Homo sapiens: one gene and its partner. The protein of the gene in region 1 interacts with the protein of each later gene in a biochemical or structural test. Each region holds a gene or a part of one and is shown in the gene's direction. Other genes may lie near its edges.

The links.
Region 2: the proteins of ATXN2 (region 1) and SH3GL2 form a complex in vitro, tested with the Homo sapiens proteins (one study listed by BioGRID).

Annotation. Positions count from the first base shown.
Region 1 is NC_000012.12:111,511,853-111,519,600, reverse strand, and holds part of ATXN2 (ataxin-2), read left to right. Parts: intron 1-1,173; coding exon 1,174-1,352; intron 1,353-3,237; coding exon 3,238-3,447; intron 3,448-6,061; coding exon 6,062-6,244; intron 6,245-7,748. UniProt on the Homo sapiens protein: Involved in EGFR trafficking, acting as negative regulator of endocytic EGFR internalization at the plasma membrane.
Region 2 is NC_000009.12:17,784,647-17,792,394, forward strand, and holds part of SH3GL2 (endophilin-A1), read left to right. Parts: intron 1-1,734; coding exon 1,735-1,878; intron 1,879-2,733; coding exon 2,734-2,867; intron 2,868-4,745; coding exon 4,746-4,904; intron 4,905-6,584; coding exon 6,585-6,688; intron 6,689-7,748. UniProt on the Homo sapiens protein: Implicated in synaptic vesicle endocytosis. May recruit other proteins to membranes with high curvature. Required for BDNF-dependent dendrite outgrowth.

The DNA of each region.
Region 1 (7,748 bases):
CAATCACAGCAGTACAATATGATTTGCTTGGTTAAAGGCATGTTCAAAGTACTAGGAACATACAGAATGAGGAGGAGCTAGCATAACCTGTAGAGTCAGAGAAAACCTCATTGAGGAGGTGACATTTTGTGATAAGATAATAGGGTCTTTGACACTTAGAGAAGAGTTGGGAGAAGAGTTTATCACCTGATGAAAAGCCATGTACAAGCATGGCTATGAGAAAATTTGGCCAGCTCAGGAGAGGGCTGGTTGTTGCATGTGTCTGGAACACAGGATCTGTGTCAGGTGCAGCAGTGGCAGTTGATAGTAGGAACTGAGGTCATTAAAGGACTTGGCATGTCATGCTAAAGAGCACCCTGTTGGAAGGAGATGGGGTGAATAAACCCTGGGGCATTGAGGACTGGCTGAGACACAGAGAACAGTTAGTGCACTGAAATAGTTCAACTGTGAGAATTTGGTAACCACCTAGTTAAGGGATGAGCCTGAGGTTTATTTGATAACTAAGTGACTTAATGGATGTACTGGTAAGAGAGAGAGGAAACATGGAGCAAGTTTGAGGGGAAAAACAGTGACTCCGTTTGTGCAGCTAATTGCATATGTGGGCTTGTGGGTCTTTCATTTATTCATAAACGTGTTGAGAAATACCTGCTACCTATCTAGTAAAGTAAGAGATGCATCCTCTCTTAAAGGCAGTCAGCTTAGAGTCTGGTGATTTGAATTGACATGTCCACTGATAGATGTTGACACTGTGAGACTGGCGGTTCAGTTTGAGGTTTCATCAGCATTGCCGATATTGGAGCCATGAAAAACCAAAGAACAGCCAGTGAGAGAAGAGATCTCAGAGAAAATAAAATTGAGAAAGTGAAGGACAAAAAATGTTGTGAAGATAGACCAAGATTGATGGAATCAGCCATAGAGAGGTCAAGTGGGATGAGAATGAGCACGCATCTGTTAAACTTTGTGCTTAGGAGCAGAATCTAAGGGAAGGGACAGTCCAGAGGTTAGAACTCAGGGTAAGATGGAAGAACAGGGGCATCTGGGAGTGAGGCAGTTTGGTTTAGTGTAGAACCTTTTTGTAACAAGCATTCCCTTCTGTCTAGATGACTTTTAGATATGTTTCATTGGCTTGGTACCTTTTAGAATAAAATGATTTAGAGGATCTCTCATTTTCAGGGAAAATAAATATATTCCTCCTGGACAAAGAAATAGAGAAGTCATATCCTGGGGAAGTGGGAGACAGAATTCACCGCGTATGGGCCAGCCTGGATCGGGCTCCATGCCATCAAGATCCACTTCTCACACTTCAGATTTCAACCCGAATTCTGGTTCAGACCAAAGAGTAGTTAATGGAGGCAAGTATTTTGACCAGACTTGTCAATATCATTGATAAAATAGTTTTCTAAATACTTAAAATACTTAAAATAGTTTACATAACTGATATGAATGTGCACTTTAATGATTTGGTGAGTAGCTTTCACTTCAGCATTACTTAAAATTGGCTTTTGTGGATATTAAATTAGTAAAACATTGTATATGTCATTGACATATATATTATTTAGCATGATGAAATATTCATGATGTACTAAGATAAAGTGCTACATTTAACCCAAGACAATCACTTGGCCAAAAACACTTCACATATAAAGAAATTGGAAACTTTGGGTAGGTTCTCAATTTTAAAAACACTGGATAATAAAATTTTTTAGACATAATTTATATGGAAAATTCTAACCTATGTGCAACACTGTGGTTAATATAGATCAATTTTCATTATTTGTTTCTATATTATGCTTACTTCAAGAAAGGATCTGAGGTAACTTATAATACAAGACATGATCAAGAGTCATGTGAAGAAAGTGACTAGAGAAATTTGCTTAAAAAACAACAAAAACAACCCTTAGTCTAAGGGTGGATGTTACAGTTTAGCAACTTAAGTAAAAGAAACCTGAATCTTTAGTAGGAAGACATTTTTTACTCTACCTCTAAATCTAGGTTGAATATATCTTGTAGGTTGTGGATCTTTTCCATAAATCAGGGATACTGAACAACAGTTCTATGGATGGTATGGAAATAGTAATAGCAATAGTATGTTACTAACTTTGTGGGAAAAGAGTGGACATTCAATTTTAGCTATTTAAATTTGGAAAGTTAGATGAAAATAGAGAACACTAAGTTTCCAATTTCATTTGTTTTCATTGAGTCTTTTCTCCAGAATTCCTCTCCAAATGGACACTCTTGAGTATTTTCAGTACTTAATATTGGGGGTGAAATTTCTTTGCTCACTGAGGAAAGATTTTAGTTGTTTATAAACAGAATTTTAAAGTTAAAAAACCTGAAGGGGGCTGAGAAATATATGATACTTAAGTGTGTGGAACCCTATGGAGAGGAGACCTGGACTGTTTGATAAGATTAAGGTAAGTGATATGTAATGTTAAATACTAGCTGTATCTTTACCTAGGCATATCCATCAGTATAAATTTATTTGGTGATGACTGCTTTGTAGTTGCAGTATTTATTAAGCAGTCGCTTAGATAAGTGTTTAACTGTATAAATTATTTAGAAGGTCTCCCTTTTTCTAGTTTAATGAGGTCAAGACTTTTTTTTTGAAATAGCAATGAATATTATCATTTGATACTCACAGGAGTCACAAACTCTAGAAGAGTAATGTTTTATTTCTACTTAAATGGGACTTGCTTAATAAGATTCCAAACTGAGTTCTGGGTTCAAGTGTAAACCTGATGAAAATCATAGATAATTGTAAGGAACCAGCATTTCTAATTGGATATAATAGCTACTGCTTATTTTCGTTATGCCTCAGAGTTAAAACTAATACAGTAAATAATCTTACTCCTGAGTAGGAATTATTGTGATTTATTATGTGAAATTATCTAGTGTATGTTATATTCCTTTAAACAACCAGTTACTGAGAAACAGTTATAGAAGCAGGATTAATAGGCAAAGTCTTAACTGTCTTCTTCAATAGTGTGTATAGATCCTAATTAACCCTTTGGGAACGTGTATTCATTTAAACAGACTTAATCTTAAGGAGGTTAAAGTAAAATGTGAATTTATGTCAGTTAAGTTATGCTAAAACTTATCACAAATCAAATGACTGTCCTCAAAGGGTTAAAATGTACAAGAAATCATTTTTGTCATTTTACTTTTTTTCTGTTTACTTTTTTCCCTCATTTTTTTCTTTAGTTTTTATACTTTCCTTCATATCATTTGTTCTGTCAGGTGTTCCCTGGCCATCGCCTTGCCCATCTCCTTCCTCTCGCCCACCTTCTCGCTACCAGTCAGGTCCCAACTCTCTTCCACCTCGGGCAGCCACCCCTACACGGCCGCCCTCCAGGCCCCCCTCGCGGCCATCCAGACCCCCGTCTCACCCCTCTGCTCATGGTTCTCCAGCTCCTGTCTCTACTATGCCTAAACGCATGTCTTCAGAAGGTACAATACCACAATTTGTTCATGTTTTTGTTTGTCTTTGTTTAACTCCTATGTGAGTTTATAATTACAAAATAGTTTCCTCTTCATTATTTAATAACCTATAATTTCTGTGTTTTAACTTTAGTTTATTAAAACTATTTCTATTAACCTTTTGTTCATTAGAGAGAAATTTGATAAATGTGTGAAGCTATAAACTCTCTTGAATTGTTGTTAAAAAGGGGGTTTATCTCTGCCTGATAATTATGCTTCTTTACAGCCCCAGAAGGGTCTGCCCCACAGCCTTCCCCCTCCTTATTTGCACTGTATACAGTAGTTAAACAAATGAACTTTCTTCAGCCAGTCTTGAACTTAGGTTCATTTTACAGCTCTTTGGCCAAGGTCCTAGTGAACCTTCCTATTGGCCATAAGCAGGGATGGTGTTTTCTGGGTCTTTTTTGAGAGCGACAGCCCATGTAGCTGACTTTGCGTGTCTGCCCTTAGATTAAAGTAGTTGATTTTTAGAATGCCAGAAGAATTCTAAATTTAACTGAGTAATTTTTTTAAAGTTAGCTTTGCAATCTTACATAGTGAAAGGCTGCTTTAATCTGGAAGAAGTCCTTGATCTGAGATAAAATTGATAAAAACGACATATGAATTTGAATATTTAGCTATTTCTTTCCTCGTCAAAAATAAGAATAAAATCTTGTAATTCTTATTCAGTATTTGGCGCTAAATCCATCATTGCCACATATCAAATACAGGGATATGTTGTAGAAAGGTAACATTCTAATTTAAATGCCACCCATATATTAAAAACCTGTTTTCTGAATCATAATGTCCTTTTGATACTAGTTCTGAATATTTGTGTTAAAATTTTAATCTGATTTGTTCATTAAAATTAGTTAATATTGCTTATGTTGGGACTAATAAAGTTTTCCGCACAAAATGTGTTTCTCCTGCTTCCCTGGAGAAAACTGTATTGGCTACTTTTAAATAAATTGTTACCATCTAAGCAGGCAGGTCATATGACTTTGACTGAAGCATCTAACCTTGAAGAGCAAGTTCCACTGATTTTCAAGGTGACTTCTTTGCTCAAAAGGGCCTTAATAGTGGTCACTAAATGCAAAATTCTGTTGATATTTTTCTTGTAGTCCATCATTTGAGTAAGCGATGTTTATTTAATGAGAATATATTAAATAAAACATGATCATTAATGACTGTGAACATCTTTATTACATTAAGATTTAAGGACTGCTCATGTATTAACTTCACACAGAAATATACTTTCTGTGTCATTCAGAGATGTTGAATATTTCCATTTGAAAATTATAGTGTATAACATTAGCATTCTTCTAAAGATCATGTTCGTGTTTAAATTCCTGTTGGAAGCCAGGCATGGTGGCTAACGCCTGTAATCTCAGCACTTTGGGAGGCTGAGGCAGGTGGATCACTTGAGGTCAGGAGTTTGAGACCAGCCTGGCCAACATGGTGAAACCTCGTCTCTACTAAAAATACCCAGCTACTTGGGAGGCTGAGGCAGGAGAATCACTTGAACCTGGGAGGCAGAGGTTGCAGTGAGTTGAGATCGTACCACTGCACTCCAGCCTGGGCGACAGAGACAGACTCTGTCTTATAAAAATAAAAATAAAATAATAATTCTATTGGCAACATATATTAATTTGAAGTTCTAAAGAGTTTGGCAGCCGGGTGAGAGAGTGAGGAGATTTGGCTTTGACATTAGGGAAGTTTTCGCTTGGTGTTAACACCAGTAGGCTTCTCTGATGAGGGCCATTCTGTCCACTCTTTTACCTGATAGATTGGTCTAATGCACAGTAGACTGATTTAGAAAGAGTAGTCACTAGTGGCATGGCAGAATCAATAATGTAGAATTTTGACAATTCATATAGTGCTGATTTCTCCCCCAAATGTCAGTTATTTTGGTCATCTATTAATAGACTAATACAAGTCATCCCTTTAATAGAATTTTCAGCTCACAGCCTGCTAAGCCTAAGAAACTGCTTACAGGTTACTGCTTACTGTTTTAAGCCGAGTTTTAAAATTGATGATCATGATAGAAGAGATAAATAAACTAAAATTTTAGAGAAATTTAAGAAGGGTATGTACATATGTTTTAGTGGTATCGGGGTGTATAGGGATTAATAGTCTTCTGTTTAAATTTTTTTTTTCTAATTTTAGAAGTAATGTAGAAAATTCGGGTCAGGGAAAGGTAAAATATATGGAAAGTTAAAAATATTTTATCATGTAGTCATAATTTCTAGTAACATATTTCTTTACAAATAAGACATAGTTGAAACAGATTGCTACAGTTCTTTTAAGAGTTGACATCTTATTGTTGATTTCTTACCACCAACTTCATCCCTCCCTTTCTTTAAAAATAAAGGGAAATAATAAAATTTATTTATAAAACTTTGTGGCATTCCACAAAATAATTCTGAAAGAATTAGTATGGCCAAAAAAATATGTATGGTGTTTTTTTTTTTTCTATTTTTAACCAAGGAAAAACTGTAGAGTGAGTGAGTGTGTGTGCATGTGTGTGTGAATGGGTGTATTTAGCAGAAAAGTAGTACTGATGAATATCATGGAATTTATGTGATGTTCACTGTTTCTTCCTTAGGGCCTCCAAGGATGTCCCCAAAGGCCCAGCGACATCCTCGAAATCACAGAGTTTCTGCTGGGAGGGGTTCCATATCCAGTGGCCTAGAATTTGTATCCCACAACCCACCCAGTGAAGCAGCTACTCCTCCAGTAGCAAGGACCAGTCCCTCGGGGGGAACGTGGTCATCAGTGGTCAGTGGGGGTAGGTAACACTTGGGCATAATGATGGTACTCATTTTGTCATTACACTAGATATAAAGAGGGCTGAGCTACAACTCTGTTTGAGGAAGTGTAAGTATGTATATGTTAAAAATAGTAGAATCACCAGGAATTGGGAAACCCATATTTTTATTCTGGGCTCTACCACTTATTCATCATATATTAAAGCAAGTCAGACACTCATTCTGAAGTTGAGATTTCGCAGTGAGTAAAGTGTTAATAATTCTTGCCTAGTCTACATTATGGGATTGTGATGAGATTCCTATAAGGTTCATAAATACAGATATATTGTAAAACTATAAAGTTTTGTAAAGTACCTCTCTAATATGAGGCAAACACAGTATGTAACACTATTTGGAGGGACCGTATTTCCTTATCTTTTTAGCAGCTTTGTTTATCAGTACATTCTATAAACATTTATTTTTGGCTTACATTGTAGTGTGTTTCTATAGCATCTGTATATGGCACTAATTCCCAACTATATTTCCATAATAAGGAATATCAAATACAAATAAAGGGTCCAAGTTTTATTTGTGATTAGCATAAGGAATATGCTGACAGCAGCTATAAAAGTATAAAAATTAGGCTGGGTGTGGTGGCTCACGCCTGTAATCCCAGCACTTTGGGAGGCTGAGGTGGGCGGATCACAAGGTCAGGAGATCGAGACCATCCTGGCTAACACGGTGAAACCCCGTCCCTACTAAAAGTACAAAAAAAATTAGCCGGGCATGGTGGCGGGTGCCTGTAGTCCCAGCTACTTGGGAGGCTGAGGCAGGAGAATGGCATGAACTCGGGAAGCGGAGCTTGCAGTTAGCTGAGATCACGCCATTGCACTCCAGCATGGGCAACAGAGCAAGACTCTGTCTCAAAAAAAAAAAAAAAAAAAAAGTTTAAAAACTAGACGTTGACATGATTTTACAATAAGGCTGACTGCTTTTGCTACTTTGCCAATCAGTCCTTAGTGCTTTGTTCCCATAACTGTGGTAAGCAAGAGCTTACAAAGAATACTTAAAACAAACAAACAAACAAACAAAAAAAACACTTTTTCTCTTTTAATCAGTCCAGAGAACCTTTAAAAGAAACAAGATCGGCCAGTTGCTGTGGCTCATGCCTGTAATCCCAGCACTTTGGGAGGCTGAGGTGGGTGGATCACTTGAGGTCAGGAGTTCAAGACTGGCCTGACCAACATGATGAAACCCCATCTCTACTAAAAATACAAAATTAGCTGAGTGTGGTGGCTATTTGAGAGGCTGAGGCAGGAGAATCATTTGAACCCAGGAGGTGAAGGTTGCAGTGAGCCAAGATCACACCATTGCACTCCAGTCTGGGTGACAAGAGCGAAACTCTATCTCAAAAAAAAGAAAAAAGAAACAAGATCTTCAAGCTTAAGGAAACAAAAACAAAACTCAGCTGTGTTAAATCTGTTTTTAGTTGCTATACATTTCTGCTCAGCTTCATGTGATGCACATTCATGTAATTGTATCCTA
Region 2 (7,748 bases), on another chromosome or scaffold:
CTTCCTGGATCTCAGATATGACTCACTGCAGAAAATAATGATATTGTTCCCTTAAAAATGATTCTGTGGCATTTTCTCTTTTTAAAAAAGAGACAGGCTCTTGCTGTGTCACCCAGAGTGGAGTGGCACCATCATAGCTCACTACCGCCTCAAACTCCTGGCCTTGAGCAATCTTTCCACGTCAGCTTCCCTAGTAATTGAGACTACAGGTGGGCACCACCATGCCCTGCTAACTTTTAAATTTTTCTGTAGAAATGGGGTCTTGCTATGTTGCCTTGCTGGTCTCAAACTCCTGGCCTCAAATGATCCTCCTGCTTTGGGCACCAAAGGTGCTGGGATTATAGGCATAAGCCACCACACTTAGCCTGCATTTTCTATTTTTCAAACTTAACATATGATCCCTTTTATATGAAAAAGCAAATAAGAAATGAATTTTATATTTTTTCCAGTCACCACCAGCCTTTACATGTGCTGTTAGCCTAACTGCTACATACTGTTTGGATCTAAACTTAAAGATACTTCCCTCCAGGAATCCTTTGCGATGCCCCTCCCCAACTGATGAGGACAGTGCCGCATATCTGGGACTCTCCTCAATCCCCCATCAAGGCACTTGGCATATTTACTTCACTCTAATTAATTTTAAAATAGACTCTACCCTCAGTTCATTATAAACTTTGTGAAAGCAGGGACCATAATTGTCGTGCTCATTGTAATATCCCTGGGACAGGGTTGCAGGATGTGCTCTCCTGATAACTTTTCTCATCTCTATTCAATGCCTCTAAGACTCAAAGTTTAAATAAAAGCCTTGTGAAATAAATGTCAAGATTGTCAGCCACTGAATGCTGGAAGTACCTTAAGCTGTGATTCTATCTGGGGTTTCCATTGAAGATGGGATTTGGGGTATAGTCCTAGGTTAATGTGTAATCCCAACTCTAATTTTGAACCTGAGGAACCTAGGTATCCTAGCATCAATTAAGTCATAGGCTTTAACAATTTTTTTAATAAAGCTGTTTTTGCCACTAACACTGGAATTGGTTTCTAGGCAACTTCTTTTATAAAAACAAAAACAAAGAAAGAGAAATTGAAATGTTCTCTTTGAGGCACAAAACTAATTTTCTCTAGTTATGTGCTGGAGAAGTGATTAAGTCTTTTAAATGAACACAGTATTTTTGCTCTTCATGGGTCTGTTTACCATCAGAATCTTAGTTGAGAAATGATTTTGAAAATAGTTCTGTTTCATACATGGTATAAGTGAAACAAGGCATAAGGCCCACTCTGCAGGAATTTACCATTGGTTCCTTATTTTAATCCTTAGACTCCTAGAATTGAACTATAAAACTAGAATAAAATTTAGAGATCATCACATAATTCGAGAGTTTGTAAAAAGCTCTCCATGGAAGCACCCAGCTCCACAGAGTCACTGCAGGGGCCACCACAGTGAAGGGAGGATGGGGAAGGGCACACAGTGATAGAATTTGAGCGTGTAATCCTGCTTCATCCAGAACAGAATTGCTGTAATTCATTTTAAGATCTTAAGGGAAAGGGAGAGTTTAGTGCTTTAAAAAAGTGGTTGATAAGACTGACTGACGGAGAGAACACTGGAGCGTACTGAAGGTACACTTATCAGTAGCTGAGCTACTTTGTAGGCTGCTCTGAGACCTGATCCTCCATCCAGCCCTATTTCCGCAGTGTCACATTGCCTACTCTGAAAGCTTGTTCTCTCTTCACCTTCAGCTTCCAGAGCTAAGCTCAGCATGATCAACACCATGTCAAAAATCCGTGGCCAGGAGAAGGGGCCAGGCTATCCTCAGGCAGAGGCGCTGCTGGCAGAGGCCATGCTCAAATTTGGAAGAGAGCTTGGAGATGATTGCAACTTTGGTAACAAGTGCTTCCTCACATTGTAATTCTTTCATTTGTCCATGGGGATTTTGGTGCTGGTAAGAAATTCTGTAGGGAATCGGTCAAATCATTTTATATTTTGGTTTTCAGTTTTAGATCCTACACACATGGGCCAAAAATTTGTTTTCAGAATTATTTCATCCGCTCTAATGTGATTTATCTTACAAGTTTTCTTCCCACCCCCCCCACTATAAGACCTCAGTCTTTACAACAGCTTTGGTTGACATATCCAGATGCCTCCTTGGCACTTTCTATTGGGTGTTTCTGGCAGTCATTGAGTATTGAAGCAGAGTGAGCAGGCACAGTCAGCATGATTCAAAGCCCTCCCTGCCTCATGGCCTTTTTCATAGATCTTTGCTCACTTGTATATGGTACCTAGTTCTACTGCCCAAGGTGAGACATGATTTATTCCTTCACCCTGTCTCCCCCAAAACTCAGCTACCACACCCAACATCTTCTATTTTCACCCCCTTGTGATGTGGGATCTCCTTCCTGGTTGAACCCGGCTATTTCTGGTACTTGCTTCTGCTAATAGATTTGCCTTAAGCTAGTCCCACATTAGGGAAAGCTGGTACTTACAAGAGAGGGCAGGGAGCTTCCTAAATTGCTTCTTAAAGGAAAAAGTAACTGTTCCATTCTTGATGAGAGGTATTTACCCTCTTAGGGGGCATTGAGTCTGTTGCCTGGAGTGAACTGAAGATACCTATTCTCTCTTGTCTGTTGTCTTTAGAAGACAAGTGGTAATCCTTTGGGTTTTCATCTGTGAAGGGCCCTGTTATTGCGAGTGCATTTCATCTTTATTCTGTAACATGAAAGAGCTTTATTCTCTCCTAGGCCCAGCACTTGGTGAGGTCGGGGAGGCCATGCGGGAACTGTCGGAGGTCAAAGACTCTTTGGACATAGAAGTGAAGCAGAACTTCATTGACCCTCTTCAGAATCTTCATGACAAAGATCTTAGGGAAATTCAAGTATGTACAATGAGTCTTCTGGAAAGTGGGCAGTTGAAATCATACAGATGCAGATGCCTTTTTTCTTTAGAAAACATTTTTTTAGCTTACCCTGTGTGTTGTCAGCTCTGGGCACGTTAATTACAAAACAACCCAGTAAGACAAAATGAGAGAAACCAGAAATGTGATACTTTTCAGCCTGTTATGACTGTGCCACTCATGAGGGCTGTCTCTGGCTTCTCTATGTTTGATTTTCATATTGAATAGTTTTTTTCAGACTTTTTCTCCAGAGGATAATATACTTTTCCTGAGAATACACAGTTTTGTTAATTATTCTATGGTTTGCTGGGCTGATTTCACCCACTAAAATGTTAGTTGTACTAGTTGTTAGCTTAAATAAATAGTTATTCTATCACTGCATAAGCACATATTTTTATTTTTTTCCAAGTCTAGAAATTAGATGGATGTTATGTGTTTTTATATTAATATTTTCATAATGGTTGTTAGGATTGAGGAAGAATACCAACTAGCCACTTTCTAAAACATGTAGAGCAGTTGAGCTGTTTATAATAAAGTTCATATGTCTTTGAGTGTGGAATGTTTGCTCACTTTTTTTTATCTAACAAATATTTGTTGAGCTTTTTTGAAACTTTGTTGGGTGTAAAATGGATTGCCATAACTTGAACTAGGGCCTCCTCCTCCTTATTCTAGCTTAAATCTCCTTTAGCAGTACCATTTGCTCAAGATTATAGAGTTAGTAAGTGACAGACTGACCCTAAATCCAAAATAGAACTCTGACTCCAATGCTGTACCCTATAGCTCAAATGTTTAAAAAAGAAAGTTCCTTCCAAATGAGCATTTAGTTTTTGGATCAGGGCATGGACTGAGGGGCGGGGGATGCAGTGTGAGGGAAGGTTTAGAATATTATTCTTCCTCCTTTCCTTTTCATTTTTTTAACTACTCCCTACTTTGTTTTCATTTCCTTTCATTCTGCTCCATACATACTAGTAACAAGGGAAAATCCAGGATTTTCCTTCATCCATTAGTAGTGAAAGACTAGCTATCGGGGAAAAACAATACTTTTTAGCTTTGGAAAACTACTTTGCTACCTGGTCACTAGAGATGATGGGTGGAGCCTGGGCAGCCATCTACCAGGTATGGTGCAAGGAGGGGATTGAAGCTCAGCATGGAGCATTAGATATAATCCCTTGGTAGGTCCCTTCCAAGTGAGATTTTGTTCTTGAGTTCAATTATATGTCAAGTGGGAGGCTTAAACTAAATCACTGGATTTAGTTTCTCTGGTGACAGCTGCATCAGTCAGCTGGGGCAAGTGTTAAGATGTAGATTCCTAGGCCCCCACCCTAGATATCGATTCAAGAGCTCAGGAATCCATATTGTGATGAGCAACTTACGTGATTCTAACAGACTGGATGATTTGAAAAGCAAGACTGCCATTTCTATCTCACTTAATTTCAAGGAAAGAGTTTTTCCTCTGGCTTCTCATGAGATACCATTTCTCTTGAAGACAGGGCCTGTGGGGCCTGTGAGTGTGTCCTTTCATTGTGTGTAGGGCATGTGCATTCCTTCTCTGTTTCTGTCATGGGCTGCAAAGGCTTAGTCCAGCTTGGCTTTGGCCTGACAAGGCCAGAAAATAAAGGGCACTGATATTTCCTATAATTTATCTTTTATTCTTAATTATTTTTAAAGATATTCCCCCATATTTAGCCTTTGAAAGCACTGGCCCCATTGATGCATGTTTCTTTATTTCTCTGGTGGCGTTGTATTTTAAAACTTAGCCTATCTTAATTTGGAAGTTAATGGACGTGATGGAGAAGTGAGCTCAAATAAGCCTTTTCCATAAGCCCTTTCAAAGCCTATTCCTGCCCTTGACTTTTGCAGCATCATCTAAAGAAGTTGGAGGGTCGACGCCTGGATTTTGATTATAAGAAGAAACGACAAGGCAAGATTCCGGATGAAGAGCTTCGTCAAGCTCTAGAGAAATTTGATGAGTCTAAGGAAATTGCTGAGTCAAGCATGTTCAATCTCTTGGAGATGGATGTAAGTGACTCCTGTGGTTTTCAATTTAATCTTATCATCGAGGCACAACATTAATATGTTAAAGGCCATAACCCTTAAAAGCATTAATATCTGATTACACTATGTGATAAGAACTTCAGTAGATAGTTATTTATTTTAAATAATTGTCAGTCATAAAGTAGACTGAGAAATAGAAAAGTTTCTTCTGCATTCCTGTAGTTTAACTAGATTCTCGACTGCTAATGAATCTTAAAGTACAGATGCTCCTTAACTTATGATGGGGTTAAAGTCTTGAATATATCATGTAATTTATCGAATAACGCATTAAAAGTAAAAAACAGAATGGTTGTAAGGGTACTTGAGGTATGGTTTCTACTGAGCACATATCAATTTTGCACCATCATAAAGCCTACAAATCGTAAAGTCAGGGACCATCTCTCTTATCAATAGTGGGAAGATAAAGGATATTTCTGAGGATCTATGTATAACTCAATAGAGGCCTGAGAACTCAGTTGTGGAGCAGGGGGCATCAGTAGTACTGGTGCAAGTCCCAGAGTCCAAAGGCCAGAAAGCCTAGAGCTGTGACATCCAAAGACAGGAGCGTATGGGTGTCCCTTCGCTAGAAGAGAGAGAGAACAAACTTGCCTTTCCTCTGCTTTTTATTCTATCTGGGTCCTGAGCTGAGTGGGTGGTCTCCACCCCCATAGGGAAGGGCAGCTCTTCCTTTGTTTAGTCTACTAAGTGAATGCCAGTCTCCTCTGGAAACACCCTAACAGACACACCCAGAAATAATGCTTTACCAGCTATCTGGGGATCCCTTAATCTAGTCAAGTTGTCACCTAAAATTAACCATCACATTGCCTACTTGCCTTACTCCTGACTGTGGCAGGGGAAGTGTGTTGAACATATCCAGACTTTCCTACCACCTGGAGACAGTGTAGGTTTTTGTTTATGTAAAACAACTTGTGTCCACCTAACTCCTCGAGAGGAATACTGTGTGCATGAGGGGTGCTCCAAATCACAGTGCTCCTTCCCTGCAACACAGCACCCCTCCCCATCCCCAAATTCATGGGACAACACTGCTTCTGTTGACTTGGAGGCTGCTACCCAGCTGGATCATAATGTGAAACATAAAATCAAGAGAAATCAAGCTTAGAATATTAGAGCAAGAATGAACTCAAGATGTCACTTGATTTAACCCTTTTACATTACAGATGAGGCTCAGAGAGCACAGAAGATTTTCTGTCATACCATGTCGCCTCTCCGGGTACATTATGTGAGATATTGTCACATTTTTATTAACAGTACCGATATTAACAGCATGAAAAGTATAAGGAACAAAGAGTCCTTTGGCCAGTGTACCTTCTTTTCTATAGAATAAAAGAAGTCAAATCCCAGATACAAGATTGTAGCTAAGCATGAGACTCTTTAGAGCTATATGGTCTTCCTGAGGGTTACCCATGTTGCTTCTCCTCATGGTACTGATACGCATGATTCTAAGCATAAGGATGCTTTCTTTTATCCTTGATGGATTTGAAACCTGCAGAACTATCTATCTTAGTTGGCTTATCACACAGTCATCAGCACCACCAACCAGGGGCTGTGTGTTGAGGGCAGCCCTGGTGTATGTATGAAACAGTAGTGGCTGTTTAGGGATGGTAACGTGTAAAACTAAGGCATGATTTTCCCATCAATCTGCAGATTGAACAAGTGAGCCAGCTCTCTGCACTTGTGCAAGCTCAGCTGGAGTACCACAAGCAGGCAGTCCAGATCCTGCAGCAAGTCACGGTCAGACTGGAAGAAAGGTATTCTACAGTTCCCTGCATTTCACATTTGCATTTTATTGCTATAAAATGATGTATAAAGAAATGGAAATCATAGAATACATTTGGAGACAAACGTCTGCCAAAATTCCGCTTATCCTACAGAGGCGCCTTGTGGATTGTTTTGATTTTGTTTTTTCTTGTGCTTTGTTTTACGTTGTTCTGTTGAATCTAATTTTCTGCTTATGAGAGATCGATACTTGGATTATATTTTGGCTGCCACAGGTGGAACACCAGGATGCTACTGCTGATAATGGATGCCATTTGCTGAGCAGTTATTCCATGTGGGTACTGGATACATATCATCATCAATCTTATAACAGCCCTGTAACCTAAGTGTTTTTAGCCTCGACTAACAGATGAGTAAACTGAGGCTAAGAGAGGTGAAGTAACTAGCCCAGGGTCACTCAGTGGTGCAAGTGGAGTTCACAGCCAGCCATAACCTGTGTGAGAGGCTGTTTCTTTTCACATCTTGTGTTTCTCTGAATGGCGGTCAAGTCCTCTGCCATCAGAGAGAGCTACTTTCACCTCATTAGATGTACCTCACAGCAGGGCTGTAGTAGTAGGAAACTACCGTGTGAATGTGGCTCCGTGGAGTTGTGGGGCACAGCCTGTTTGGCTATATACCAGTGGCCCTATGTTATAATATGTGTTATTTTAATTTAGCCAGATTAAACAGGATGATTTTGCTGAACATGTATACCTCAAAGGGTCACCTCAGCAAGCTTTTTTCTTAGGCCACATGGCCAGATTAGACTCTCACAGCTGATCACATGGCTGCCTGCGTGAAGAAGACACCAATCATACGATTCCACACCTGTTTTCGTTGTTTTCCCTCAGGCTGATCTCATTTCAGTATTTTCTTTGATTCATGGTTTAATTGAGCATTTTCCTTCGGCGCAGCCTTATGGAAATTTATGTAATGCTGAAGCCTCCAGAAAGGTTTTAAAACCATATACTTCAAAGATACTAAAGAAATACTATGTGTCTTTGTAATGTCTCTTGAGCATGAAGGGAGCCCTTTCCTTTTTTTCCTCTGAAA